Linked DNA regions of Homo sapiens: regions 1, 3, 4 and 5 are each linked to region 2. The links come from fine-mapping of genetic effects on gene expression. A gene starts in region 2. Each other region holds a variant in brackets. All regions are shown on one strand. Distances are from middle to middle.

What was found. PIP is the estimated chance that this variant, and not a neighbour inherited with it, causes the effect.
Region 1: its variant is the best candidate, but not a certain one, in a credible set for the expression of RAD23B in cerebellar hemisphere (GTEx, PIP 0.58).
Region 3: its variant is the best candidate, but not a certain one, in a credible set for the expression of RAD23B in whole blood (TOPMed, PIP 0.58).
Region 4: its variant is the best candidate, but not a certain one, in a credible set for the expression of RAD23B in whole blood (INTERVAL, PIP 0.90).
Region 5: its variant is the best candidate, but not a certain one, in a credible set for the expression of RAD23B in whole blood (TOPMed, PIP 0.87).

Annotation. Positions count from the first base shown.
Region 1 is chr9:107,383,748-107,389,943 of GRCh38, forward strand. No RefSeq gene overlaps it. Among named protein-coding and RNA genes, the nearest start is that of LINC01509, 80 kb to the right of the region's middle. The variant G/C (reference allele first, on the strand shown) is at 3,824.
Region 2 is chr9:107,280,299-107,286,494 of GRCh38, forward strand. RAD23B (RAD23 nucleotide excision repair protein B) reads left to right here and starts at 2,981. Exons shown (of 10, transcript NM_002874.5): 1 at 2,981-3,397. The coding sequence starts at 3,332. RefSeq lists an enhancer at 2,310-2,469 and a silencer at 2,960-3,519.
Region 3 is chr9:107,229,952-107,236,147 of GRCh38, forward strand. LOC107987110 (a long non-coding RNA gene) reads left to right here. Exons shown (of 3, transcript XR_001746873.2): 3 at 1,684-2,188. Among named protein-coding and RNA genes, the nearest start is that of RAD23B, 50 kb to the right of the region's middle. The variant A/G (reference allele first, on the strand shown) is at 3,790.
Region 4 is chr9:107,316,639-107,322,834 of GRCh38, forward strand. It overlaps RAD23B (RAD23 nucleotide excision repair protein B), which reads left to right. Exons shown (of 10, transcript NM_002874.5): 6 at 2,114-2,241; 7 at 5,345-5,480. Among named protein-coding and RNA genes, the nearest start is that of RAD23B, 36 kb to the left of the region's middle. The variant G/A (reference allele first, on the strand shown) is at 2,739.
Region 5 is chr9:107,301,922-107,308,117 of GRCh38, forward strand. It overlaps RAD23B (RAD23 nucleotide excision repair protein B), which reads left to right. Exons shown (of 10, transcript NM_002874.5): 3 at 114-193; 4 at 4,458-4,726. Among named protein-coding and RNA genes, the nearest start is that of RAD23B, 22 kb to the left of the region's middle. The variant G/A (reference allele first, on the strand shown) is at 3,236.

The sequences.
Region 1 (6,196 bases), 100 kb after region 2:
TGAGCCATTGTGCCCAGTCATGTGTAGCTTTTTAATGCTTTTATATCATTCTATAATGAACAAGAAAGGGAGAGAAGAAAGAAAAGGAAGTAAATTCTGTGGACTTTGCCCTTGAAGGTGTGAAGGAGGTTCACAAGCACTTTCAGACCAGTGCCATACCTTTAAAGGGGCTATCTGGCCATGCTTTCTTCTCTCCAAAGGCACACTGGTGGCTTTGTCTCCTTCATTCATTCATCCATTTGTTTACTAGGTGTATGTGGAGAGCTTCTTATGTGCTAGACACCATTCTATGCATGAGCTATACAATGGCAAACAGGACAGTGAATCCTGATTGCTAATGAAGAAGTTAGGCAATAACTCCCCCAAATGTAAACAAGAAATGATCAGATAGTAATAACAGCTATGCAGAGAATTAAAATATGAGCTATGATAATTGCTGGCGTATGGATATTTTAGATTCGTGGCCAAGGAAGGCTTCTCTGAGAAGGTAGCACTTAATTGATGACAAGAAAGACTGACCTAGGAAAACCAGGAGAAGAATATTCTAAAGCATTAACAGCACGCTCGAGGACTCTCAGGCAGAAACTCACTTGGTAGGGATAAGGCACGAAGAAAGGCTAAAGTGTGGCTGGAGGGTGGTGGCCAAGGGTGAGAGCAGAATGAGATGAGGTTGGATCATGGGAGGCTTCGTGGAAGAGGGTAAGAAGTTTAGGATTTTATTCAAAGTGGAGTGGAAAGTCATTGGAAGACTTTAAGTAAGAAAGTGATTTAATCAGATTCATGTTTTTAGAAAGATCCTTCTAGCTGCCATATGGCAAATGGATTGCAGAGATATTGGAAACAGAAACAGCAGTTATAAGAACACTGCAGTGATCCAGGCAGTGATGACCAGGGATTCAATTAGAGTGTTGGCAATGAAGAAGTAGATAAGTGGGTGTCGGGATATCTTTTGGAGGCAGAAGTTACAATACTTGCTGAAGGATTGGTCATGGTGCCTAGTAAAACAGAGAAATCAAGGATAATTCTAGATTTTTGGCTTGAGGGTAACCAGGTGCTGTTTACTTTGGTGGAGAAAATTGGAGTAGAAGCAAACTTGGGGGGAGGGGAGTGGATTAATAATCTTATTAATTTTTTTACAAGTAAAAATGTCAAACAAAGAGTTGATTATATGAGCCCGGATTTGCAGAGAGAGCTCAAAGCAAGAATAGCAAGTTTGAAAATCTCCATACATGGATGGTATTCAAACCAGGAGATTGGTGGGCTCACCCAGGTGGATTGTAGATGCAGAAGAGAAGAGCTCAGGATTGCATCCTAGGTCTTCTAAAGTTGAGAGGTTAAGTAGAAAATAAAGAATAACAAAAAAGAGACTGAGAAGGAACAGCCAGTGAAGCAGGAGGAACATCAACAAGTGAGATTTCATAAAAGCCAGGAGAAGAAAATGTTTCGAGAAGAGGGGCACACAGGTAGGCTTTGTGGAATGTCACTAAAACATCGAGTGTGATAAGAACTAAGAAAAGGTGAGCCGGGCATGGTGGCTCATGCCTGTAATCCAGCACTTTGGGAGGCTGAGGTGGATGGATCATGAGGTCAAGAGTTCGAGACCAGCCTGGCCAACATAGTGATACCCCTTCTCTACTAAAAATACAAAAATTAGCCGGGCATGGTGGCGTGCGCCTGTAATCCCAGCTACTCGGGAGGCTGAGACAGGAGAATCACTTGAACCCAGGAGATGGAGGTTGCAGTGAGCCAAGATCGCACCACTGCACTCCAGCCCAGGAAACAGAGCGAGACTCTGTCTCAAAAAAAAAAAAAAAAAAAAGAACTAAGAAAAGGCCATTGGATCTGGCAACAGAGGGATCACTGGGTTTTATCACAGACAGTGTGAATGTTAAAGACATTGCCATTTGAAGCCCAGTGGGACTGGGTTTGAATTTTAGTTCTACCACTTACTAGCTGTGAGAGCTTAGATGTGCTACTTAACCTGTCTATAGCTTTCGATAATGACATTTACATTATTGAATTGTAAAGTTTGAGGGAGGTAAAGTTTATGAAATTGCAAGCACTTAATAGGCACTCATTGGTTTCCATTTTTTAGGCAGCGTAGGAAAGTCAGGGACCTTGGGATAGCCCCAGGGAAGAGGTCCTTGTGTGCTTGGATTCTGTTTTTGAAGCTGCAGTAGTGTGTGTTGTCAAAGCAAAGCAAAGAGTTATTGACCCAGAGATCTGAGAGCTGGAGCAGCTGACTCTGTCCAAGAAGGAGATGAGGGCAGATTTCTACGCTTAGGTCCCACACTGAGCTCTTCTTGCTTTTAGGCCTGACCTCAAGCATCCTTGCTAATGAAACCCTAGGTCATGAGGTTTCCCTCTAGTCAATCACTATGCTCGCTGTAGTTTAGCTCTGGGCTGAGCAGGATGAATTGAGGCTAAGAGTGACTGCCTCTGTGCCTAAAACCTTGAGCACTGTGTTCTGAGGAAAATTTGTGTTTACAGTAATGCCCCTGTGACTTGGATGAGTTTCCAGGACTTGTGAGACATCCCAGACCCTGTGCTAAGAAAACCATGGTTCCTACAGCCCTTGCATGGGGAAAGTGGATCAAATACAGCAGGGGGAGCTCATTTCAGGGCCATATTTGTGCTGTCTTCCTCCTTGTTGCTGTGACTATGGAATGGAAGAAGGCAGAAACAAGGGGTCATTATCTACAGGGCAGTGAGCAAGTGTTGGGTTTAGTTCTTGTCCCAAATGGTCAGGTCCACAGTCATCCAGTTCTTAGTCACAGGAGTTACAGGTAATGCCAAGGGCTGAGTAGGGAAACTGCTAAGAGATAGAAATGAAACTGAGTGCCAAGAAAGCAGAGAACACCTAGGACAGGGAGGGCAAATAAGGGCACACTGGCAGCCACCCCACCCTCTTGGGACCAGGCGAGACATGCTAATCTATCACAACTTCTTCCTGCTGAAACCTCTGACTCTACCCCTAATTCTAACCTGAACACATCCCAACATAGAGCTCCATGTAGCCACTTTCAATAATTTGGCCTTGATTTACAAGACAGACTTAGTATAATATTCTTGACTTAGGACTATTTTACTTATCTCTCTAACTGGCACCGAATTAACTTTTTATAGCCTGAGTACAGGAATGCCCCATGGTGTTTTTGTTTTGTTTTGTTTTGTTTTCTAAGACAGAGTCTCGCTCTATCACCCAGGCTGGAGTGCAGTGGCGCGATCTCAGCTCACTGCAACCTCTGCCTCCTGGGTTCAAGGGATTCTCGTGCCTCAGCCTCCCAAGTAGCTGGAACTACAAGCACGTGCCACCACACCCGGCTAATTTTTGTATTTTTAGTAGAGACGGAGTTTCACCATGTGGGCCAGGCTGGTCTCAAACTCCTGGCCTCATATGATCCGCCCACCTTGGCCTCCCAAAGTGTTGGGATTACAGGCGTGAGCCACTGCGCTGGGCCTTCCATGGTGTTTTAAATAGCACTTGACCATCATCTTTGATCCTTCATTATATTATTTTAGGAGATGATTGGGTTTTGGAATTCACCTTTCATGGGCATCTAGAGCAATTCTTTTCAACCTTCACTCTGCATATATGATCTGGGTAAATGCAGAGTCTGATTCAGTAGGTGTGGGGTGAGACCTGTGTTTGTGTATTGCTAACAAGCTCCTAGGTGGTACCAATGCAACTGAACTGTTGTCCACACTTTGAGCAGCAAGGAAATAGACTCACTGGAGAGGAGAGGAAATTTTCAGACAAATAAGAGCCTAATAGAGCTCACAGTGTTCTAGAGAAAACTTGGCAAGATCCTGCAGCCACCTG[G/C]ACAAGCAATCTGGGATGAGGTAACTCTCCAGGCAGACCCATGTTATGAAAGTAGCTTGAGGAGAATACACACTCCGACCTCCCATCACCCTATGTGCAAGTTGCAGTTCGTGAGCAGGGGTGGGTGATGGCTGCTGGGCAGCTTGCCTAGTCACCTGGGAGAAGAGGCAGAACGGGGGCTGGCAGAAGACTTCTTAGAGTTAACTGGGATCAGGACAGGATAAGGGGGAAACCATAGTCTCCTAGGGGTGAGGACGGTAGCCAGGGGGCTATGCCCTTTACATTGGTGGAGCCACAGTAAACCAACTAGAGACAACCTCTGTAACTGAGTTCCCTCCCTCCCTCCTTTCCTCCCTCCTTTGCTCCCTCCCTTCCTTCCTTCCTTCCTTCCTGTTATTATTTTTTTGAGACAGGGTCTCACTCTGTCATCCAGGCTGGAGTGCAGTGATAATCACAGCTCACTGCAGCCTCAACCTCCGGGGCTCAAGCGATCCTCCTTCCTCAGTCCCTCACACTTCCAACCCCTGGGGTTTTGCCAGCCCAAGCTGTTCTCAAAGTCCTGGGCTCAATTGATCCACCCACCTCGGCCTCCCAAAGTGCTGGGATTACAGGCATGAGCCACCATGCCTGGCTCTTATTTTCCTTCTCACTCAGTTTTCTGCAGAGCGTATCAGTTAGGGCAGCCTCTCTGCCAGAGAGGAGAAATTGGTTTAGAATTGGTTTGTTTCTTGGTTCTTTCCATGTACATATTTCATCTTGGGTAAAACTCTGGCTAGACTTAAAGAATATTTAGATAAGTGCCTGAGGAGTAGAGTTATAGTTGGTTATTAAAGAGGGTAGAGAAGAAGGTTGGAGAAGAGCTACCACCACTCAGACATGGGCCTCCTTGAGGACCCTCATACAGGGTTGTGCCAATGTGGCAGGATGGTGTGATAGAAGAGGTACAGTGCCAGATTTAAATCTCAACTCCTTACTTATTACCTCTATGGCCTTAAGAAAGTGACTCAACTTCTCTGAATTTTGTTTTCCTCATCTATAAAATATTATCTCCTTGCAGAGCTAAATGTCAGAATTAGGTTGGGCACAGTGGCTCATTCCTGTCATCCCAGCACTTTGGAAGGCCAAGGCAGGTGGATCACTTGAGGTCAGGAGTTTGAGACCAGCCTGGCCAACATGGCAAAACCCCGTTTCTACTAAAGATGCAAAAACTAGCCAGGCATGGTGGCACATGCCTGTAGTTACAGCTACTAGGGAGGCTGAGACAGGAGAATCTCTTGAACCTGGGAGGCAGAGGTTGCAGTGAGCCAAGATCGTGCACTGCACTCCAGCCTGGGCAAAAAACAAACAAACAAAAACAAAACAAAACAAAAAACGAATTAAATGAGGCAATGGATGTACGAGCACTGAACATTTTATGAAGGCAAGGCCTGCCTTATCCCCGGCACTCACATATGGTGGCTCCCTTCCCAGCTCCACTGTGCACCTTGCCTCTAACAGCACAGTCCCAGCTGTTTCTGAAAAGCTGCGCAAGAGAGCAGCTGACTTCACCCAGTCTCTGCTGGACCACCTTCCTCTTCCATCCCCCTGGCAGCTAAGAGGAAACACATGTGTCTCCTCAACTGTAAAATGGAGATGGTGAGGTCCACTCCCAGGATCTTGTAAGAGTATCATGAAGCCCTGGATTTCTAAGTATCTATGGTGGTCATATATCATGGTATGACCAGAATAGTCCCAGTGCATATCTGATGTCCTAGTGTCCTGTTTAGCAATTTGGCTCTAATTTGGATAATAAAGTATAAACTTAAAAACTTTAAAGAGCTGTGCGAATACCAAGCAGTGTACATTGTATTTATGGGTGGAAGCTATTGCTGCTAACTGTAAACTAAGTCAGGAAAAGAAAGGAGTTAAAATGGTTTTCTTCTCACCCAAAATACTTAACTGGGCCCCCTTTTCCAACCCTTGCATTGTGGGTACAAGAGGAAACCCAAGGAGTTTGGATGGCTGAAGGGAGCCTCAGGAGCAGGGAAATCCCAGCAGAGGGGCACACTCCCAGTTCTTCCTCCACCTGTGTCCACCATCAGCCACCCACTCCCTCCCAACCCTGCCCTTTGGCCACTGACTCATTCCCATTCAGGCCTAGACCTGTGCTCGGTGCATAGTCTCCACTCTCCCTCTGCCAGTGAGGATGGCAAATATTGTCCTGAGAATGTGAAACCCACATGGGCCTCTCAGAGGCCCGATCCTGGCTCGGTCTCCTGGATTGCTCAAGCATTCCTCCTCTTCCTCCCCCTCTCCTCCTTCTTCTCTCTCTCTCTCTCTCACCTCTTATGGAAGCTATTTGGTGATTGAGCAATGCTCTGGAATAACTAGGTC
Region 2 (6,196 bases):
GGTGAAACCCCATCTCTACTAAAAATACAAAATTAGCCAGGCATGGTGGCGGGCACCTGTAATCCCAGCTACTCGGGAGGCTGAGGCTGGAGAATCGCTTGAACCTGGGAGGCAGAGGTTGCAGTGAGCCGAGATTGCGCCACTGCACTCCAGCCTGGGCGACAGCAGAGCGATACTCCATCTCAAAAAAAGAAAAAGAAAAAAGGCTTAACACATGTTTAATATATATTATTAAATTGGTTGGAGAAGTCCTCTCTAAAAAAGTAAAATTGGAATTGGAACCTGAAGATGAAAAGGAGTTAGTTGTTCAAAGATCTGGGAAGATAGAGTTTCAAGCTGAAGGAACCTCAAGTGCAAAGGCCCTGAGGCTAGAACCAGCTTAACCTGTTTGAGGGTTGAAAGGGAAATGGATGACAGTGAATGAGTGGGTGAGAGAAGGAAAGAGATGAGGTCAGAGAAACTGGCAGGAGTCAGATCATGTGGGCTCTCCAAGGCCACGTAAAGAGTTTGACTTTTATTCTAAAATGTAATGAGATACTAAGCATAGATACAACATGCTCTGATTTATGGGTTTAAAAGGCCACTCTGGCTGCTGGGGAGGCTGTTGGGGGTAAAGGGTGGAAGCGGAGAGACCAGGTGGGACGCAGGTGAAGGATAATGATGGATTAGCTTAGGGCTGTAGAAGTAGAAACGGTGAAAAAAGGCTGACTTGGGGATATACTTTGGAGAATAAGGTTGACAGGGCTTGATAATGAATTGCATGTGGTGGTTGGGAGTGGGTGAGTGAGGGAAGAGAGTTATCAGGGATGAAGACCAGATTTTTGGTCTGAGCACCTGGGTAGACTGTGAGGCCATAAACTAAGATGGGGGAAAACTGGGAGAGGGGCAGTTTGCAGGGGGGAAGGAGGTCCAGAGAGAAATCAATTGTTCTCTTTGGCCACATTAAGTTTCAGAGGCTTGTTACATATTCAGGTGAAGATATTGCTTAGGCAATTGGCTAACTCTATAGCTAAGGGGAAAGGTCCAGGCTGGAGGTATTTCAAAACAAGGGCCAAGATGAAACCACCTGGTGACTACGAGTAGATACAGGAAGACAGAGGGCAGAAGATTGCATATTTAATTACTATGAAGGGAGTTATGTGTTGTGAAAGGGGAAATATCAGGTTAGTGGAGGGAGAAGCTGGTCAAGGAAAGTTTCTTGAAAACATTAAACCCAAGCTCCTTGAAGCCACTGAAAACCAAGCAGTGACATTGTATTAGTGAGGATGCTGTCCCAGAGAAGTAATTTGTAATTGGTCATAGAGCTAGTGGCCTGACTAGAACTGTGTTTTATACTTGAACTAAATCAAATGTGCCACAGGCACAGTATAAAACAGAGGAGAATAGCTGGGAGCGATGGCTCACATATAATCCCAGCACTTTGGGACTCCGAAGCAGGAGGATTACTTGAGCCCAGGAGTTCAAGACCAGCCCTGGCAACATAGGGAGAACATATCTGTACAAAAAAATAAAATATCAGCTGGGAAGCAGTGGTGTGTGTCTGTGGTCCCAGCTACTCAAGAGGCTGAGGTGGAAGGATCTCTTGAGCTCAGGAGGTTGACGCTGCAGTGAGCCGTGTTTGTGCTACAGCGCTCCAGCGTGGATGACAGTCAGACGCTTTAAAAAAATAAGAATAATCTTTAAAACAAAAAACAGGGGAATAGTGGCACACCCTGGGACACAGACTCTGGAGTCATTCTGTCTGAGGTCACATTGTGGATTTGCCATTTACTACTGGCTGGGTTATTCCAGGTGCATTACTCAACATCTCTGTACTTCAGTTTTCTATCTGTAAACGGACTTTCTACTAATAGCTAACTGCTTACAGACTGTTTATCATGATTTTACATACAATATTCAACTTCCCCCTCCAATAATCAATGAGTGACATTATTATTCTCATTCTACTGCTGAGGATCCAGAAGCACATTCACCCATTCCACAAATATTTACCGTGCACCTGCAATGTGCCAGGCATGTTCATGGGTGAACACAGCAAAATCTTTGCCTCTGTGCAGCTTCAGTCTGGGGTTCACAGGAAAAGGAGAAAGATGATAAACAAGAGATACGTACATTACAGGGTAATTATAAAGGGATACCCGCTATACAAGAAAACAGAGCAGGATAACAGAGATAGGAAGTTGGGATTTTAAGTAAGGCAGCCAGAACAGACCTCACCAAGAAGGCAATATCTGAGCAAGGATGTTAAGGGAGCCGGGGGCAACCTAGAATCCACCAGTGGGGAGAGTAAGGCGACTCGGAGAAAGGCGAGGGGCTAATGCATCCGTTCTAATAACTCTGACTTTAACTCGGGGCTAGATGGGGAAACACTGGACAGTTCTACCCCGAGGTGTGACAGAACTTGACCTTCATTTTAAATCGGTCCATCTGTTTAGGCTAGTGAGAAAAAACAATATTTGAACTCGGGCAGTCCAGCTCAGGAGTCTGTGCTGTCGGGATTAAAGAATCAGTCGACACCCCCAGGGCTGAGCCCCGCAGCAAGCGCCCCGCGGGTGCTGGCCCCCAGACTGTGGTTACCGCCATCCTTTCACTTAAACTCCGCCCCGATTACTCCCCCGCTCCAGGGCTCCGCATCCACTCTGCCGGGTCTCCACGAAGCGCTTCCCGGGCTACACATTGCGTAACTTCGGCAGCCGGGCGGAGCCTGCACAGAGGCGGAGCCGCGGCAGCCGGAGAGAACGCCCCAGCAATAGTCGCTAGGAGGAAGCCCCAGGAGCCCTTGCCGCCCACGGAACGCGCCTGCGTAATCCGGGTCCAGGCCGCCGACATTCCAGGACCGCCTTCCGCCCCGCCCCCAATTCTGGGGCGGAGTCCTCGGCCGCGCCGGCGCAAAGCGTCGCCGCACCCCACGCCTGCGCGCTTCGCCCGCCCGGCCCCATCCCCCCAGGTTTTTCGCGTGGGGGAGGGGGCACGTCTCGGCGAGTCACGATGATGGCGGCCACCATCCTGTGGTGAGCTAGCGGATTCCCTGCTTGTCTCGCCGACCCCCTCGCGCCTTCTGCAGACTCCGTGGCTGGCGCTCGGCGCGTGAGGAAGCACGGCGGCCCGAGTTCGCGGGGAAGGCCGCAGTCGCGGAGGCAGCGGCGCGGTCCGGGGCACGGGCTGGGGGAGAGGCCGCTCCGCTGGGCGAATGTGACAAGCCCCCACCCCCACCGCCTTCCTCCCCAGAGCGCGAGGAGCGCGGGCGACCCCGGGGCCCCGCCAGGCCACAGACCCCGCCCAGCGGCCAGCACCCGGCGCAGGCCCGGCAGCCGAGCTGCGCGGCGGCACCATGCAGGTCACCCTGAAGACCCTCCAGCAGCAGACCTTCAAGATAGACATTGACCCCGAGGAGACGGTATGCGCGCGGGCCGGGGGCAGGGGCAGCCGCGTGCGGGCCGCGGGGAGCGCCAGGAGCTCGTGGGGCCGGGCGGCGCGCTCCAGCGGGGGAAGCCCCGGAGGGCGCGATGAGGGCCCTGGGTCCTGGTGCCGGCCCTGGCGGCGTACAGCGGAGCCGATCCTCCTGTCTTGGCCGTGGGCTTTGTGGCAGGAGAATGGGGAAGCAGTGGCCGGACGCCGAAGGCCTGGTGGCAGATGGCGTGGAGCGCACGCCCGCGGGCCTGGGCCTAGGAGCTCGTGCTAGCGGGGCCGGAGGGGGATGGGAAGGTCCAGGCCGTCTCAGCCGTAGAGCCTGGCTTTCTGGTATGGGTGCACAGGTGGGGGAGGGAGACGTAGGCGTCGCCACTACCCCTGTGTGGACCTGGTTAGCCGCTTAGTTCCCAGAGTTGGTAACCCGAGAAGATGAGCCTTAAGAAAAAAAAAAGTATCAGGTTCCGTTTGCCGCCGAGAGGTGAGTGGTGGTGAAAATGAATTTGCCCCTTTCCCCTCAGAATTGTTTACCCTTTTATTTGCAAATGAATCGTTCTGCTGCCTTCCTCCCGCCACCAAACCCACACCCTTGCGTAGATTGCACTTTGAGGCCTCTTTGGTGATGGTTTTAGCTGTTAGAGCTCTTCACAGCCATCCAGGCTCAAACTAAACTTCAGATTTAACGGGTTTTCTGTGTTAGAAATCTTGGAATTGTAGGAGTTGGAACGCTGCAGCCACCCTCCCCCGATGCCCCAAACAGTAGCAGTTCAAGGGGGAAAAAAGAAAAAAAAAACAAAAAACAACAACTTTGAATCCTTTCTGCAGTTAAAGCCTTAAACATTTCAGAAGTCCACATTATACATTTTTCTGTATTTGTGACTGCATAAAGAGACACTGTTGAGGTCAGTACAACTTTATGCCAAGAATCTAAAAACGCTGTGAGTGTAAATTTACTGCTTATGTTCGGAAATACACCGCCAAGATTGTCATAATACTAAGTTTAAACCAGCAGCTTTCTGCCCAACTCTATTTTTAAAAGTAGTTGATTCTATTTTGGGTGGAGATCAGGGGCTTTGGTGTTAAGTAGACCTGAGTTCCATTTGTGGTTTTGTAACTTATTTGCTATGACCTTGGGCAAATTACGGTTAGTTTCATTCTCTGTATAATAGGGATAATACCTGCCTTGCAGAGATGTGAAGATTAGATGGTATGTATTTACTTGGTGGTCAGTAAATGGAATCGATTATTTAAACAATGGATTCCTTTGAGTGGAGATACAGTGTTACGTTTTACTTATCTCATTTAATCTTAAGTTTTGTACATCTTTAATTTTTTAAGAAACAGCCTTTTTGGGATTTTGGTACAAAATTATTTGATTTCAGAATATTTATATGTGGGTGTATGCTGTGTGATTAACTTCTTAAAAGTACAGGAGATCTCAGTTATACATGAGAAACTTTTCAGTGTCCTCAGAAGTAATTGACAATACCCTGTGGACTGACAGTACTAATAGAATCTAATTTCTCTTGAATATTTCTTTACTGCTTAATGTGCATTAATAAGTTGAAGGGTGAAAGTTAAAATGGAGTTTGTTTGATGATTTCAGACAAACTACGTAAAATGCCTATTTGACTTTGGTTCTTTGTGGTAACAAATGTTGGTGCCCCAGTAACTTAATCGGCTTATAATACTCAGTTAATTTCAGAATTATTGAAAGCTAAAGAAATATTGTGGCTTTTTGGTAAATATGTGTGGGTGTATTGAAGTTATGCAGTGACTCTGTCAACAGCTCCACTGAAGTATTTACGTTCTGTAAGATTTGTTTAGCGTTTTAGGCACTTTACGCATACTGTTAACTGAGAGTCAATGCTGTACCTGTGTTTGTGTGAATTCTTAACTATTTTTGCTGTTTTCCAGTTTATTTCCAAGGAAAAGTAATATGTTATACGTCTGGAAGTATATTTTTGAAAAGCCCATTGTTAGGGAGCGGTTTCTACAGCTTTCGCTGCTATTTATATAAATATAATTTTGTTGCTGTTAGTATAAAAAAACTAATACTGTTAGTCCGGGGCAAGAAATTAAAGCATTTCCTCTGGGATATATGGAACGTTTGCATTTAATGACTTGTCAGTTTTTATTTTAATGACTTTAGGAAATATTTTTCATGACAACTGTTTCAATTCTATGTTTGTAGTGGGTTTTAATTAGTATGTGTTTTTGATACGACACCTTAGAATTCCAGTAAGAAAATAAACAATGAAAATTATGTTTTCTAGGGCAACGCTAAGTGTCCTGTTTCTAAGTTGTTGTGAGAACGAGGTAACCAAGGATATTAGAAATAGATCTAAAATAAGATAGGATCTTATTGAGACCTGTTTTTGGTCTGGTCACAGATTTGTCCTTGTTTAATTTTTACCTAGAAGGAACCAAGGAAATTAAGTAACTTACGTAGCCAGTATAGCAACTCTTGTGAGCTTGAGATGAGCATGAGCAAAAATGGAAGAAAGGACTGTGAGATAAGTGGAATCATGGGAATGATTCATTTGTTGAACAAGTAAATGTTTAGTGAGCTTTGCTGGCAGGACTGGAGGAGTACAGGGACCTGTAGAACGTGGTCTGGGGCTTCTGGGAGCCTTATTGACTTAGTCAAAGCTCATTGGCTATAGAGTAGGGGGATATACAAAATGGAAAGAGCAAGATAATTTGTTTTAAGGTGTTTTTATTTGCCCTAGTTTTAACAAAACTTTCTTAGACTTATTAGGCATTTTGTACCATTTACTTGACTATT
Region 3 (6,196 bases), 50 kb before region 2:
ATTGTCTACTGTTTTCAGAAATATTTATGCAGGGTAATTTTAATGTCTGCCATTTTCCCTTGGGTCAGGGAAGCCACTGTATGATATTATAATTGCTTTGATTTGTATCGTGTTACCTACTAGGTTCAAGACACATTCAGGAGTGTTCTGAAAAACATAATAGAAATTGACAGAAAAAAGTGACTGAATAGACTTTCAGAAAATATGAAAGATTGAATACAGAAGTTTGTTTTCCCTTTTCCAAGCCCCTCTAAAATGACAGGAAAAATAAAAATAAAACATGGATCCCCCAAAACAAAGGAAACAGAAAGGGAAATGACCACAGATGATAGACAGCCACAAAATTTTGGACATGGCAACCCAAGAGGAGAGAGGGATGAGGCTACAGGAGGAGGAGTCAACCAGAAGAAGCAAACCAATTTATAGCTCAGAATCCCCAGAAAGTGTCAGGAATTGAGGATGCCAGCTGCCTCTGAAGGCAAATTGAAAACAAGACAATCAATTAAAAATCTTTGTAAGGAGTAGGCAAATTCTGAGGTCTCCTAATCAACCCTTTGTGGCCAGGTAGCCAACTCTCCCTACTCCAGCAGAGCACCAAAGATGTCCTCCCTGGAGATGTGGATGAATAGGTATTCCAGACTTGGGAACACCAGACACAGCTGAGGTACCACAATTAAATGGAGAAACTAAGCAAAAAATCACATTATAAACAAAAAATCTGACCCAACTCCACGCCCTTCTTTATGTCAATTCTCAGAAATACTGCATTGTCATTAAAGCTTAGAACTGTAGACAGGAGAGAGAAAACTAGTCATAAATAACTAGAAATAAGAATAGCATCATCTTCTCAATAGCAACAACGGCAGCTTGATCTCAATTTACTCTGATTCAATCCCACCCTCACACACCTCAAAATACTTGGTTCTGTGGCTTTGACTTCATGCATAGACTCCTATAAAATACTAGTGCTTGCCTCTTAAAGCATAGCATATCCATCCAGCCCCTGTGACCAAAGAAATGGTCTTGGCTCTCATCCTAAAGAGATATTAAGAAGCAGCCTTAACAAAGGAAAAGACCAGCATGGATTGTGCCCCTAGACCTTCTATTCTTTGGATAGTACTTTACCCTTAATTCCCTGTTCTCCTCTTTTGATTATAACCTAATTGGCAACTGTAGCAGCCAATCTCAGATATGTTCTTGATTTCTGCAATGTAGCCAAAGGCGGATTTCATCACATTCTCCTTTTTTTACTTTTTGCTGGTGATGGAAGGAGCAATTGGTTCATGAGCTTGGTTTGATGATTAAATAAATGGCTTGGTGACATTTGGAGTGTCAGCTTTCCAGATCTGCAATCACCACAAAACTGCAGACACAGATAACGAACCTGGGGTGGAGTTGCTGGGTTCAGAGACCATAGATTGGATATTACCTCACCATTAGAACATCAGTCTTGATTTCCCTTTCTTGGCTGCATTTAGAGGCTAGATGCCCGCTCCTCCACAACTATGTAATGGAGACAAGAAGGTGGTACAAAGAAAGTCCACCACAGTTTATGGAGCCTGCAGAAGCCAGTGTGCTTGACACACACTGTCATCCTGTTGTTGCAAGTATTCTTTTTATAGTGGAGGAGGAGGACGAAGAGGAGGAGATCACATTTTAAAAAGAATGATCTCATCTTTTTAGGTGAGAAGATGGAGAAGATGAATACATTTGCTTTCAGCAAACCAATGGAAGTCCATTTGCATGATCTGAAAAGGAAAATGAGAAGCTAATTTTTCTATACAAGGCAGAATTTAAGAAATACAATTCCTAAGGACTCCAGTGGATACAGCTCTGGTTCCTGGACTTCGTGTTTTGGCTTGGTCTTTCTGCTTTTTCAATTTTGTCACTGGTAAGACTGGCCCCACCTCACCCATGAGGAGCACATTTTCAAGGTTAAAATGCTGAGTTAATTAGAGAAAGTGGTGTTATTAACTGAATGGCAATAGAGAAGCAGCAGCAATTGAGGGAAAGGAGATGATAAGTTGTTTTGGGGCATGGTGAATTTGAGATATCTTGCAGAACATTCAGATCAAGGTTCTTATGACCCCTGAAGTTGTCACGTGTTAACCAGAAAACAGATCTGCCAGGTGCGGTGGTTCACACCTGTAATCCCAACACATTGGGAGGTCGAGGCGGGAAGATCACTTGAGGCCAGAAGTTCAAGACCAGCCTGGCCAACATGGCAAAACCTTGTCTCTACTAAAAATGCAAAAAATTAGCCTGGTGTGGTGGCAGGTGCCTGTAATCCCAGCTACTTGGGAGGCTGAGGCATGATAATCATTTGAACCTGGGAGGCAAAGGTTGCAGTGAGCCAAGATTGCACCACTGCTCTCCAGCCTGGGCAACAGAGTAAGAGTCTGCCTCAAAAAATAAAATAAAATAAAATAAAATAAAATAAAATAAAATAAAATAAAATAAAATAAAGGAAAAGAAAACTGGGATCTGAGCTAGGGCATCAATCAAGTTTAGTCTGGTAGATTTGATTAGAGGATAAAATTAAAGTCTTAATCTTTTATAAAACCATCAAGGGATAAGGTAAAGAGTTTTTTCTAAAAAAAAAAAAAAAAAAGGCTGTTTCAGTCAGGCCACAGCTAGATTATGCTACAGTAACAAACAACCCCAAAATCTCAGTGACTTAATACATGACAGTTTTATTTCTCATCCATTCTTTATGTCAAGAGCTGACTATGAGTTCTGCTCAGCATCATCTCGCCCTGGGATTTGAGCTGATGAGCAAACCACCCACCTGGAACATTGCTAGTTTCTACAGCAGAAAAAAAGGAGGATCTCACGCTGGCAATTAGATATTCTAGCCCAGATATGACAGACATTATCTTGCTCATATATCAAAGGCCAGGAGTCATCACATAGCCCCACTCAACCACCAAGGAGGCAGGAAATATCATCCAACCATGAGTCTGGAAAAAGGCGTGCTGCCATCAGTGAGCCATGTTAATAACTACTTTAAGGCCCAGGGCAGAATTCGTATAAACATGCTGCTTCAGAGATGTAAGAACTAAGAGTTAGCATAGAAAGAAGTTAATGAAAGAACCATCAGACATAGGAGGAGGACCAAAAAAGCAAGAGTCATGGATGACCAGGAGGAAGAAGAGACAGTGAAGAAAGATGCAAGTGATCAATGCAGTAGTTTCTGATAGGAAGGTGCACCATGCACAGTTAAGACAGACAGATTTAAGAAGGCCAACCAGCTGTCTCACAAGGGGAGCTTCAAAATGGCACTCATCTCCTTGATGGATTTCTCAGGATCGCAGTTTCCTTGCCTCAGCCCAACCCTAACACCACATCTAACCTTAGTTATTATGATGCACACGTGGGGTTGCCTGTTGCCACTGAACATTCTAAATGTCTAATCCAAACTCTCTTGCTCTGGTGTCATTCTTATTAAGCAAACTACTGTTTATGGTTTGGCTTCCCTTGAATATCTATCTTCGGTAAGAGAAAATGTTAGTCATACAGACTTAGAGCATTTCAGACCACATGACAACTCCACTATTAATTGGGTAAGTTTAAAACCCAGTATTCTGATACTTCAGTGTGATGAACTTGGTATATATGAGTCTCCCGCCAAATGGTTCCACCCCTGATATGCAGGCAAATATAAGGCCCATGAGCTTTATGTGTAATATCTGATTTTTCTATGAGCATTTAGCAGTAAAGAAAAAGCCAATAAAGGCAAATTTCCTATTGAAGAGAGACAGAGGGGAGAATAAAAAGGAGAATTCAAGA[A/G]GGGGGAGAGCTGGATAACAAGGAATTAAGCAATAAATGAAATAGGGAAAACAGAGACCATGAGTGGAGACTGCAATTTCAGACATTTAAAGAGCTTGGTGGCCTTTTTGTTTTTGCTGAATTTAAAATGGGACTGCAGGTCCAGTGCGGTTGCTCACCCCTGTAATCCCAACACTTTGGGAGGCCAAGGAAGGCAGATCACTTGCGGTCAGAGGTTCGAAACCAGCCTGGCCAACATAGTGAAACCCTGTCTCTACTAAAAATACAAAAATTAGCTGGGCATTGTGGCCGATGCCTGTAATCCCAGTTACTTGGGAGGCTGAGGCAGGAGAATCACTTGAACCTGGGAGGCAGAGGTTGCAGTGAGCCAAGGTCGCACCACTGCACTCCAGCCTGGGCAACAGAGCGAGACTCCATCTCAAAAAATAAATTAATTAATTAAGTAAAATAAAATGGGACTGTAATTGTTTACAGATTACAAAGTGAGTATAATTTGGCAAAAAATTTAAGGTTATTGATGGTGGGATGAAAATACCAAACCTGATTACATGCCAGAAGACAAATGTGTATCAGATTTTTCTATTTCTAAAAATAAGCATGCTATGAATTGCTACATAAATTATATTAGGGTAAGATTATATACTACAATACTGTATACAATAATAGGCATTATAATATAATAAATTATAACTCATTATAAACTGATACAATACACTTCAGTCATCAAAACTAGATTGTTAGTGAGTATTACACGACACAGGAAAAAAAGATGGCTGCTATATAATCTTCAGGGAGTAAAACAGCAGGATTTTTTCAGAGTATGTGCACTATTTTATCAGCTTTGAAAAGTAGAAAAGACTGGGAAATCTTAAGAATGAGTATGGAAGTGACAGTGTGATTATGACTGATTTTTATTTTATTCTTTATACTTCCCTGTGATATTCAAATTTTCTATAATGAACTTAGAGTTCTTTTATGATAATGTAAATTATATAGAGAAGCATGCTTCCATTAGCAATTCTGTTTTTAAATTATTTTTGTTAGTTATACTGGAATTAAAAACTCATTCAATACATTAAATGTAACATTCTTAAATGCTGAGGGTATATATACTCCCAGCTGCTTTTAAAATGAAGTTGTAATTAGATGGAATAAGAGAATTGAGACTACAAAAGCTCTCTGAAGGTAATAGCAAAGGCGTAAAATACCCTATTTCAAATATTGTGAAATACTGTATGAATGGCAATCTTTGGGATGTATTTTACAAAATACCACACATATAAATTAAAACTTGACTTTAGATCCGCTCGTAGGTTTTAATACAAATAAGCAAACCAATAATGAAAATAAGATTATAGAGGCAACAGTGCACCTGCCAAGGAGAATATATTTTCTTTTCTTTTTTCAAGACAGAGTCTCACTCTGACACCCAGGCTGGAGTGCAGTGACACAATCACAGCTCACTGCAGCCTCAATCTCCAGAGCTCAAGTGATCCTCCTACCTCAGCCTCCAAGTATCTGGGACTGTAGGCACATGCCACCACGCCTGGCTAATTTTTTTTTATTTTTTATTTTTTAGGGATGGTGTTTCACTATGCTGCCCAGGCAGGTCTCAAACTCCGGGACTCATGTGATCTTCCCACCTTGGCCTCCTGAAGTGCTGGGATTACAGGCTTGAGCCACCACACTGGGCCTATACCATTTTCAAATAGTGGAGCCATCCATTACATATTTGTAACATATGTGTTGATTAACAATTAATACTCTTAGTTCCAAGCTCCATTTGGCAATATAAAATAAATGGAGGGTTTGCTCACATCTGATGGATATGACTTTCTCTGTGAAGACTGAAGCAAGATCATCTGAGTGTAAGGAGGCAGTATAAGTTCGGAAATTAAGGAAGGTAGAGATGCTTAAGGTAGCTTTGCAGAGAATAGGAGCGCATGTCCACCAGACAGATGTTATAGAATTGCCATGGCTTGAAGTTTGAAACCCAGCTGTGGATGATTGAGATGATTCATGTATTTAATGATACTAATAGAATGATACCCGTGAGCAAGCTGGATTCCTAGGATGCAAAAAGAAAATAGCTTTATTCTTCACCTTCAACTGCCCATTTGAATCTTCTTTTAGGCCAGTTCTTTTCCCCTCCCCAACTTCAAATGAAATAATAGAAAGGTCTTTGGACTCTCTGATCATCTCAGATAATAAAATGCCCTCTGGTCACTTCAGTTCCAAACCACAACCTCGGTTTATAAATTAATCTGCCCAGAAACTCCCAACTTCATCGTAGGCTTGGCAATGCTTTAGACTAAGGGGCCTATAGTGGGGAATGAGATACCCATCTCTGTGTTCCCTTTAATGCTACTTCTCCATGACCCTGACTTTGTTTCCCCAGCACTTAGCT
Region 4 (6,196 bases), 36 kb after region 2:
CTGTTTGTGATATTTGGGGGTTTTTAGCTATTAAACACCTTTATTTTTGAAAATTCTGCAGAAAAAAATTATTCAACAGATACTCGGTTTCAGCTGTGTATCAGGGAAACATGCAGAATGACATGGTTTCCTGCACAGTCAAACTTGCATTCAGTTGGGGCAAGAAAAAAATAATGAAACATTAAAAAAAAAAAAAGATAAGTGATATTAACACAAAGGGCTTCCCTAAAGAAAAAACAGAAGGCTACCTAGGATGACTAGGCAATGCCTTTTAAATATGGAACTGAAGCATGTTGAAGGAACTGGCCATCTAAGATGGCTGGTGTTGTGTAAAGGCCCTGGGGCAGGAAAAGGTGTGGCCTGCTGAAGTAACACCGGGAAGATGAGTGTGGTGGGTGGAGGATTGTTGAGGGCTGGGAGCCAGAAATAAAATGAGGGGTTTTGCGCACACGCGTGCGTGTGTGTGTGTGTGTGTGTGTGTGTTTACTTGACTTTTGCAACTGGCTGAAGAACAGATTATAGATATGGAGACAAGAGTTGGAAACAGGGTGTAATCCCATCTAGAGACTGTTGTGGGCTTGTCTTCAGTGATGACAGTAGAGAATGAAGAGATGGGTTTGGGGTGTAATTTAGAGATAGGACCTACCAGGTATGCTGGTAAGTGAGGTGTGGAAGGAAGAGGAAAAGGAACTGAAATCACCAGGGTTTTTGTCCAAGTGCTTAGGTAAATAGAGGTGCCATTTGTTTAAAGAGAGCAGACAGACAATGGTGGGACACATTTGAGAGGGAAATCTGAATTGCAATTAGTTGAGGAATGAGTGGAATGTGAGAAAGTGGACACATGTTCAATAGCTATGGCTGTGATGAGAAGACAGCAGATGGTTCCTCAAAGAGGAATTAGGATGAAGTCAAAGGTGGGAGGTGTGTTTTTGTTTTAGAGTGAAATATAGGACATAGTTAACTACTGACCCAGGATAATTACACAGAGGGGTAAAGATGTTGGTGGAGAAGAGGGAGGATAACCAAATCCAGTTTGGTTTGAGTGTGAGGCAACAATAAAGGTAATGGTCCCCAGAACACAAGCAGAAGAAAGGATAGTTTTAAGTGAGGTAAGTTTATGAGGAAAATAGGTTTCATTTATTCAGAGTGTTGTCTGTATTGAGAGGAGGGAGCATAGGAGTCTGTAAGAAGTGACTTGGAATATTAGCGCTTTGGGCATTTTACCAACTTTGTATAGTGTACAAGATTTTAACTTTCTAGCTCCTAACCTCTCTTTCCCCCGTTTCAGTTATATAAGGTATCAAAGGGAAACTGTGAACTTGTTCCATCGGAGTTGATGGTTTGAAATACCATCCCTTCCCCAGCATGTTTTCAGAATTTGGTGTCTCTTCTTACCAGTTGCCTTCCCTGACCTCCTGCTAATTCTCCCTTACCTTCATACCTCATTTTTCTATTGTACTCTGAAACATATTATATGAGTTTCCTGTTGCTACTGTAGTAAGTTACCACAAACTTATTGGTGTAGAACAACACAGATTAACTGTCTTCTAGTACTGTAGGTTAGAAGTGTGACACAGGGCTCACTGTACTAAAATCAGGGAGCCGGCATTCCTTTTTGGAGACTCCGGGGAAGAATTTTTTTCCTGATCCTGTCCTACCATACCTTGGCTGGTAGCCCCTTTCTGCATCTTCAAAGGCAACAGCATAACATCTCTCATCCTGGTTTTGTCTCCTCCTCCTCACACCTGTTTCTCTGACCCTCTCATCTGCCTCCTCCTACTACTATTAAGGATTCATGTCATTACACTGGACCCACCTGGATAATCCAGAATGAGGTCTCTGTCTTAAAGTCAGCTGATTAGCAACCTTAATTTTATCTATAACCGCAATTTCCCTTTGCCTTGTAACCTATTTATAGGTTCCAGGGATCAAACCAGAGGGCATCTTTGGGGGACCATTACCTACTACATATATGTTGTAATTTATACTGTTACTCATCTTTGTATTCCCAGCATAGTAGTTCCTGAAATGTTGTATACATGAATCAATAAATGTATAGAGAATGCTTATTTATTAAATGTTCCTTTTTTTCCCCTCCACCCTCCCTTTTTAGTGACGGGTCAGTCTTACGAGAATATGGTAACTGAGATCATGTCAATGGGCTATGAACGAGAGCAAGTAATTGCAGCCCTGAGAGCCAGTTTCAACAACCCTGACAGAGCAGTGGAGTATCTTTTAATGGTGAGAAATATGTTTTACTTTACTCCATTCTGTTGTTTAAGATTAAAATCTCAAAGAAACAGATTTTAAAGGACCAGTTCACTTGTCACTGATATATGCTAGATGATATACATAATGCTTTTTTTTTTCTAGTATGTTTGTATTTTGTGTTAATAAAATGTAACCTTTTTTAATCTAATGGTCCAACATTGTAGTAGCTTTTTAGGTGCCACTATGCGTGAATTATTCAGAACAAAAATTTCTTTTTTCTTTTTTTTTTTTTTTTTTTTGAGACGGAGTCTCGCTCTGTCGCCCAGACTGGAGTGCAGTGGCATGATCTCTGCTCACCACAAGCTCCACCTCCCAGGTTCACGCCTTTCTCCTGCCTCAGCCTCCTAAGTAGCTGGGACCACAGGCGCCTGCCACCATGCTCGGCTAATTTTTTTGTATTTTTAGTAAGATGGGATTTCACCATGTTAGCCAGGATGGTCTTGATCTCCTGACCTCGTGATCCGCCC[G/A]CCTCAGCCTCCCAAAGTGCTGGGATTACAGGTGTGAGCCACCGTGCCTGGCCAAAATTTCAAGCTTGAGAATCCGGGCCAAATTCTTTTGCTTATACTGTGTATATTTCTGTAATAAGTTGCCAGCTTTTTAAAAACTGGGAAATTTCACATAAAAGTACAGATTTCTGGTTTAACTGGACAACTTTGATCCCAGATTTTTGCAAGGGATTAAGGAAAATATTTTAGATCGTGGAATCTAATTCATTATCCTCTGATTCACTCTGTTACCAACGTAACATCATGCATTTAATGAATGATGTTACTACCTGGTTCCGTTGGCATTTGAATTTGTTTTTATAGTCAGTAGGAGTTGAGGGACTTTTTGAATAAAGTATTCTTTTTTTTACTGGTAATGGGAGTTTTTGAGAAATAGGTTGTTGTGGACATCAACTGAAACCCTTGGTATTAAGATGAAAGTCTGCTAGTTTTACAGATGTGACACAGGCTAAAGTAATTGAATTAAGTTTTTTAAAATCTCAGACTTCTATAATTGTCTGGTGTTTTGGAGTATTATCAAAGTCTGAATTGCCCTAAATATCATCTTAAAGTTGCCTGATTCTAACCCTTTTGGGAATTACATCCACAGTTTAACCCATTCCTTTGTGTCTAGGTTGTACTTCTGTTAAAAACTCCTTTCAGGTAGCTAGCTAGTTTCAGAAGAGTCAGTTATAAGCCTCATAACTGTACTCTGCCTCCACCATTTATTTGCCTATGCCTTTGCATGTGAAGTTCACAAAACCTTTTTCTTAGCATATTATTTTATCTTTTTAAATTCACTTTTTCATTATCTTCTTGAGTAGTGTCTTTAAATGCTGGCAGTTTATCCAGTTTGTTTGGAATTGTGGAATTAATAATTGTTGTGAATTTGTTTGGTGAGGAGTGTGTACCCTAAACAGATTGTATAAAAGTATTAGCTTTTATGGAGTGGCTTTCATTTACACCTGATTTAGAATTCTGTATAAGTTCAACAGTATCAGTTATTTTGATCTAATAGATGTGGAGTTTTGAGGTATAAAAATACAGAATCATTGTTACCAAATGCTAAAACTGCTGTAGAGCATCAAATGCAAATAAATAGATGATACATGAGTTCATCAAAAACAATTTATAACTAAAATGTTTTTTATATATTTGCTCTTTGTTTCATAGACTGAAGGGGAAAAGTTGCTTTTAACTGTTACTAGTTAAGAGATAGGTTAAGGTGAACGGATGGAAAGAAGAAATGTTGAGCATTTATATAAGAGGCTATGTAATGTGTGAGAATAGAGGTCGATCTATAGCAATAAAGATGAACTTTTTAGTTTAATAAAAGAGAATTTGATGGACGCCCTGGATCCTAAATTTGTATGTAGTTTGTTAGCACTTAAATAACTGCCCATCTGAGTTAAGGGTTTGCGTTGGTTAACTCATTCAAAAACATTGGTTTTAATGCCTGGAGTGACATCTAATCCATGCAGCCATTTTCCTGCTGTGTTACTCTTCATCCTTTATATGTTGTTGCTTTTGGCTTCTGGTTTATTAGGGAATGGAAGCATTTATCATCTTATTCAATTGTAATACTTGGTTCTTTATTCTCTTCAAAATCTATAAGAACTTGATAAAGACTTTTTAAAAATTTTAAATGACAAGTCTATCAATCATGTGCATCAAAATAGGTGTCCCAAAAGAGTTTAGTGCATGCAGTTTTAAGCTCTTAATAACTTTAAAAGATAAGTACTATAAACTTACAAAAGGCATCACCTAAAAACTAAATGGTTTCAATTTCTTTTATATCGATTTTATGAATTTTGAAAAATTAAATTTTTTGAGATACTTTATCTCATTTTTTGAGATACTTTAAGTATCTCATTTATGAGATACTTTAAGTATCTCATTTATGAGATACTTTGACACTTTAAGAAACACTTCACTGAAAAGTACCTCAAATTTATGAGATACTTTCTGAGTGACACTTTCTCAGTACCATGGATCAGTAGGGGAGATCCTCCTGCCTGGCCACTGTGTACCTGGTCTGTATCCATTAGATATTTTTTCCCCCAGGAGTCATTTCAGAACTGTCAAGTGTGCATCAAAACCTCTTTTTGGATTATCTTAAGCTAGAGTTGCAAACTCAATCCTTTTTATCACTGAGTAACAGCTGATAAAGATTTCTAAGAAGTTAAAAAGTCAACTGAACTAATAGGTAGCACAAAAACCTTTGGTTGTGTTCAGTTTTAAGAAGGTACATGTATCAATATTTTTCAAATTTGATGCTAATTACGTGTGCCTGGTAGGTGTCTTATTGAACAACACAGAGAATATTTCCATCATCATGGTAAGTTCTGTTGGACAGTGCTGCTTTGCATTATTATAGCAATGTGGGTTTTTCTATAATGCACCCAGGTCATTTCTAATCTAATTTGAATCCATGCAGCTTAATAATCCTTTACTTTTAATTGAAGCAGACATCTGTTTGATGCTTTTGAAAATCAAACAAGATGTTAAATAGACTATAAATCTTTTACTCTGTATAATATTTAATTTTGCATGATGGGATATCTTAAAGCTTGGAAATTCTATTACAGGGAATCCCTGGAGATAGAGAAAGTCAGGCTGTGGTTGACCCCCCTCAAGCAGCTAGTACTGGGGCTCCTCAGTCTTCAGCAGTGGCTGCAGCTGCAGCAACTACGACAGCAACAACTACAACAACAAGTTCTGGAGGTAAAGCGGAATCTTCTGGATGGGGAGGGAATGGCCCTGAATTTTTAGTGTAAAATAATTTAACCTGAAATACTTCAGAAATGACGTTCATTCCCAGAGCAGTCGAATAATTCGTTAAGTTCTCTCTTCACTAATGTTTGAGAAAGGCCCAAAAGAAACTTTCCCAAGTGGATGTAAAAGGTATCCTTGCTGATATTAAACATCAGTGTTGCAGTTTTGCCGAAGGGCATATTCTGTTTTATTTGTTTTAAGGAAAAGATGCTTTCCAGTTTGTATTTAGTGTTACTTTCTGATGCCATTCAGAATGGTTTGCTCACTTTGTCTCTTACTCTCTCCATAAATGTTACAAAGTGTATGTAATTTCAAAGCCAGCAGGATTTTAGTAATTATACAGCCAAGGAAATGAAACCGTGAGAGGTTTAAAACCTTGTATCTAGAGGAGAAAGCAAAGCTTGAATTGAAGTCTCTTTACTGGGGTGCTGACCATACCCCACACATTGCTATAGGTCTGACTACAGAGCAAAGCCTGGAACCTGCGGTCAGCTTAGGAATTACGCAGTGTTCTCCTTCGTTCGTTCTTCTGTATATTAATAAAGTAATTTAAACTGTTGATCTTGAAAAGGCCATTCTTCCATGCATTTCCTAGCTCTGATAATGATAGTCACCTCTGGTTGACAAAGGTCACTCAGTGCTTTGTGTACAGTCTCCCAAGGACA
Region 5 (6,196 bases), 22 kb after region 2:
ATTCATATTTTAATATTTCTGAAATATTCATATTTCGAGTAGAAAGTTGTTTTAACTGAAGTGTAAGAGAAAGATTATGCCTTAAATGATTTTTTTTTCTCTTAATGTATTAGGCAAAATCCTCAATGATGATACTGCTCTCAAAGAATATAAAATTGATGAGAAAAACTTTGTGGTGGTTATGGTGACCAAAGTAAGTTTCAACCTCATTCTGTATATCTTTATGCATGTAGGTCTTTTTAAAAATGATGATCACAAGTCCACACAATGGACACAGTTTATACACATCCATAGTGGTGTACACTTAACTACTATGAAAGGTTTTTAAGAATTTACCTTAAGTGAAACATAAAGTTATTAATGTTTTACATTAATTACACATTAAACTATAATATAGTTTTAATAAAATTTTATGTAAATTAAAACAATTGAAAAATAAAATGTCATGTTAAAATTATTTTTGCTACAGTAGTGAAATCATTATATAATTCTTTTAAAATGTCTTTATAAGTGGAATAAATGTTTATTCTGTAGTTTTTGTAAGCTTGCCTTAAATAGACCTGCTAAATTACGTACTAGTCCTAACAGATTCCTCAAGACAGAAAAGGCATGAAAGCTTATTATTACAGTGATAGTTCTTAGTGAAAGAATATGTTTTTAGAAACTAAAAAAAGGGAAAAGATAACTAAAGAAATGATGGAATGATTTTTATGAGGAAGTTTTTTTTGTTTTTGTTTTGTTTTTTTTTTTTTGAGACGGAGTCTCGCTCTGTTGCCCAGGCTGGAGCGCAGTGACGCTGTCTTGGCTCACTACAAGCTCTGTCTCCCGGGTTCATGCCATTCTCCTGCCTCAGCCTCCCTAGTAGCTGGGACTACAGGCGCATGCCACCACGCCCGGCTAATTTTTTTGTATTTTTAGTAGAGACAGGGTTTCACCGTGTTAGCCAGGATGGTCTCGATTTCCTGACCTCGTGATCCGCCCGCCTCGGCCTCCCAAAGTGCTGGGATTACAGGCGTGAGCCACCGCGCCCAGCCTGGAAGTTTTAAACAGATACTTTTTTGTGATTTAGTAGGCTGGAATGTATTTGGAACAATTTATAAAATTAAATTTTTTTTAAAGCAGAGAATGAACATGGATTTTTTTAAGAGACTATTTATATACTTGTTTATTTAAAGATATATAATGCAGTGTAGAATTAAGAGACAAATGGAGAAGTGGTACTCATGACATTCATTTTTAGGATTGGATTGTCATAATCTGAGAAAGAACAGTGTTACTTGTAGCACTGAAAATGAGTTTAAATCACTAATTGAAACCACTTCATCAAAGGCCAAAAGTGGATTAAATGTGGGTTTTTTCTCAAAGTCACAAAATAGTTAATAGTAATAGAAAATAGAGTCGAAGAAATAAATTCTAATTACCACATGCTTTTGTACTGGGAGCAAGCAGCTAAATAGTTTACAAGTGTTGAACATTTTTTAATTCATTAAGAACCATGTTGATTTTGCTATACTTAAGAACTTAAGTCATTATATGTTAAGTTTAAAAACAAGCAGAATCGTGAGGAAACCTTGTATCATCTAGGTTTTTTTATTCAACTGTGGTAAAATATAACAAACTTCCAGTTTAATCATTTTAAGTGTACAGTTCAATAACATTATAGTTACATTGTTTTGCAGCTATCACCATCATATAAGTGGAATCCTATGGTATTTGTCTTTTTGTGACTGGCTTATTTCACTTAGCATAATGTCATTGAGGTTCATCTGTCTATGTTATAGCTTGTGCCAGAATTTGCTGAACTTTTAAGACTGAATACTATCCTATTTTCCTATCTAGTTTTAGCATACATAGTACATAATGGGAAATGTGATAGCCACACATTTAAATATGTTTTGTTACTGGTCTTAGTTTCTTTTAATATTACAGTGATCCTGACTGTTTAGAACACAAGAATTAAGCAGAAAAAGTCTCAATAGGTGCGTGTGTTTGAGGAATAGATACTTGAAGCCTATCATTATATTGCATACAGTCCTTTTGTTTTTCCTTAAAGTCTTTTATTCCTAATATTACATAGGATTCTAATGATATTTATGATTGTTTTATTTGAAGTTAATAGAGGACAACTATGAAAAGGGAGGGAATGCTGCTACAGTAAGGCATTATGGAAGCACTGAGAAATGACCTTATTAATACAAAGAAGGGAAAGGAAAAAGCTATTAAGATCAAAAGCAAGAATAAAAACTAAAAAGCAGAGAAGGGCTTGGTACTGTTTAGAATAAAGTATAAGTAGCTGTTCTTGGCAGTAGGAACCTTGAAGGGAAGTTACATTGCAATATTATTTTGATAACAATTAAGGAAAATATTAAATGAGTATACCACTTTTAAAAATACATTTTTATCTAGATTGGTTATTATAAAGTTTTGGTGCTTAAGACTCTAAATTTTCACCTTTGTGAAGCTCCAGTTTATCCAGAATAACTGAAGATCCAGAATGATCTCAGGATTTCAGCTCATTTTAGTTTTAGAACAGTAATAATCTGCAGAATATTATATTGGCTGTTAAGAAAGTTAAGCTAAATAGGAAAAGAAGGGAGTAATGCTACTAGTATTTTTTAAAAACCTATCACCTTTCACTAACCTTTTTCCTAGTGTCTTCTTTATTAGTTCAAATCAAAAAGACAAGGCAGCTCATTGGTTTTAGAGTTTGTTTATGCCTGTGGCAAATTATGTTGAATTTAAGCCTTGTCTTCCACTAAAACAGCTACCTTTTGTCCTTGGGAAAGTTATGAACTAAACAGGTAGCGAGCATTGAGAGGCCTTAGGAGAAGACTAAAAATCATGTATGATTTTTACACATGTACAGTTGACCCTTGAACACCACTGAGCTTAGGAGTGCTGGCCTCTCCCCTACAGTCAGAAATCTGCATATACCTTTTGACTTGCCCAAAACTTACCTACTAATAGCCTACTCTTGACCAGAAGCCTTACTGATAACGTAAACAGTGGATTAATACATGTTTTATATGTTACATGTATGATATACTGTATTAAAGTAAGCTAGAGAAACTATTAAGAAAATCATGGCCAGGTGTGGTGGCTGATGCCTGTAATCCCATCGCCTTGGGAGGCCAAGGTGGGCGGATCGCTTGAGCTCAGGTGTTGGAGACCTGTCTGGGTAACATGGCGAAACCTTGTCTCTACAAAAAAAAAAAATACAAAAATTTAGCAGGGA[G/A]TGGTAGTGTGAGCCCGTAGTCCCAGCTACCTGGTGTTGGGGGCGGGGGCAGTGGCTGAGGCAGGAGCCTTGGGAGGTTGAGGCTGCAGTGAGCTGTGATCATACCACTGCACTCCAGTCTGGGCGATAGAGTGAGAACCTCTCTCAAAAAGAAACAAAAGAAAATCACGAGAGAGAATATTTTTAGTGTTCATTAAGTGTAAGTGGATCATCATAAAGGTCTTCATCCTTGTCTTCACACTGAATAGGCTGAGAAAGAGAAAGGGTTGGTATTGCGGTCTCAAGGTGGCAGAGATGGAGGAGGTAGAAGGAGAGGCAGGCACACTCAGTGTAACTTATATTGAAAAAAATTATCATGTAAGTGGACCCAGTGCAGTTCAAACCCTTGTTGTTCAAGGGTCAACTAATTGTTTTTTTGCTCTGTGGGAAGCTTTATGGCTCTATTTCCAGTTCAGAAAGTGCTGAGCGTGTGGAGGTAACTTAATTTGGCCTTTATTTTTCTGCTTAATTACATATATGTCTGAAAGTATTGTGAACCTTTTTGTACTTGGATCTGTTGATTTGTAGTCAATTTTGGGATTTTCCTCCCTCTTCTAAAAATACAGTACAACAGAATATTTGACATGTTTATAAATAAACATTTATACTGCCATTTCAAGAACATTATTTTGGGCTGGATGTAGTAGTTTATGCCTGTAATCCTAGCGCTTTGGGAGCCCGTGGTGGGAGGATTGCTTCAGGCCCGGAGTTCAAGACCAGCCTGGGCAAGGTAGCAAGACCCTGTCTTTAAAATTAAAGAAAATTATTTTATTAATGCTTTTAAGTGGTATTAGGTACCTTAAAGTTACAACTTAGGTACATAAAGTTTTTTTGGGAAAATGATACGGTTTATATCTATATATATATATATATATATCTATATATCTATATATATTTCAAATTTTTTATTTTATATTAACTTGATATGAAGATGGAAATTGTTGGGTAAAATTAATTGTGGTTGATAGTTAAGATTAACATACGCTGTCATGAGCTTTGAAAGAGTAACCATGAGTCAGATTGTTAATATTGATCATTTATTGTGTCATTTTACAAAATTATTTTCAAGTTATAGGTTGTTATTAGTGCTATGTTTGTGGCATCCTGTAACGGTACAGTCTAATTAGAGATCAGGCAGTATGTAGTATTTTATTGTAATTATTTTGTCTTTTAATGTGTTTAGCCCAAAGCAGTGTCCACACCAGCACCAGCTACAACTCAGCAGTCAGCTCCTGCCAGCACTACAGCAGTTACTTCCTCCACCACCACAACTGTGGCTCAGGCTCCAACCCCTGTCCCTGCCTTGGCCCCCACTTCCACACCTGCATCCATCACTCCAGCATCAGCGACAGCATCTTCTGAACCTGCACCTGCTAGTGCAGCTAAACAAGAGAAGCCTGCAGAAAAGCCAGCAGAGACACCAGTGGCTACTAGCCCAACAGCAACTGACAGGTAGGAACTGGATTCTAGGACATTCTATCTCAAAATCCGTGTTTAACAGGAACTTCATGCATTTATTTTGATTATTGTTTTGATCAAACCGACTATATCTATTACGTTAAGCTTTTTTTAAATGTTTGACTAAAACATATGCTGCGTCTGTTTTGATAGCTTACTAAGGAGAATATAAGTACAAATTTTCATAATCAGATTTCTGTACTCTGTTGATTTGGGCAGGGTGGGGGGCAGTGGAAAGGAGAAAGCAGGTGAAAGTCATTTTTTTTTTTTTGAGTAGAAACGTTAGGAAATACAAATAACCAAAATGAATAAGGATTACATCATGACATTGCCACCCTGATCATCATTTGTACTTGATCTGTATTCTTTGTGGTCATTGTCATATATATCATAAGCATCCTTCCATGTTAGTAAATCTTTCCCGTAGTTATATAGCATTGTGTTTGGTTCTGACATTTGTTAGCTCTTGTAACCTGAACCTATGGACTATTTCAGTTTTTCACTGTTGTATCTGTATCTTTGTGAACTTGTGAGAAATTCAGGCTTCTGCCTGTGTGGATCTTTAGGGGAAAAAAAAGGAAAAGAGTGTTGAGATATTTGAGGAGCAAGAAATAATTTCTTGTGGGAAGTTGACAGCAGAGACACCTCAACTAAGTGGCTGCTTAGGCAGTTAGGATTATTGAGCAGTTTAAGACAAGACTTTTGTTTTTCTCCCCAGACGATCAGGTAAAATGACCAAAGCAAATGCTTAAGTCAGAGTTCTCTTGGTTGGAAATCATACAGCACAATTCCTTGATCTAAGAGCATGAGTTATATTATGACCAGCCTTCACTGGCACTACAGCTGTTTGTATTTTGTGACTTAGTGCAACTCAGGACCTCAGAGGCAGTAGTTATATGATCTTTGGAGTCAGAATCAGACACAGTGGAAAACTATGCAGTGACTGGAAGGGTTTACAGACATGGAAAGGGGTTAAGATATATATGACAATGATCAGAAAGATATAGTTGTGATCCTTCATTTTAGTGTTCTGCCTTTGAGTGTGGTTTCTGTGTCTGACTTAGTCAACCATGTTTGGAGGAGTCTGAGCCACCTGGTTCATTGCTTACTTGGGGGTCTCTTTCTAAATAATTGATTCCCTAAGAAGACAACATGGGTTTAGGCAATAGAATATTTGCCCTGTTACTTGCCTAGAACACTGCTTTAAGCATTCTATGACACCATTGCCTAACTTGATCCATCTTTCCCATGTACAACTAGAAATGCATTCAACCATCTTATCCTAGTGGATACCACCTAGAGTCAGGTTAAGCTGTTACATCAAAGGGCTGTTGATCAGGTCTGTATATGAGAGGGAACTTACGCATTTAAAAAATTGGTTTACTAAAGCACTTAAATATTACAAACTTAATATGTCTTAAGTCAGCACAATACATCTTATTCTCTTAATTGCTTTAAGCTCCT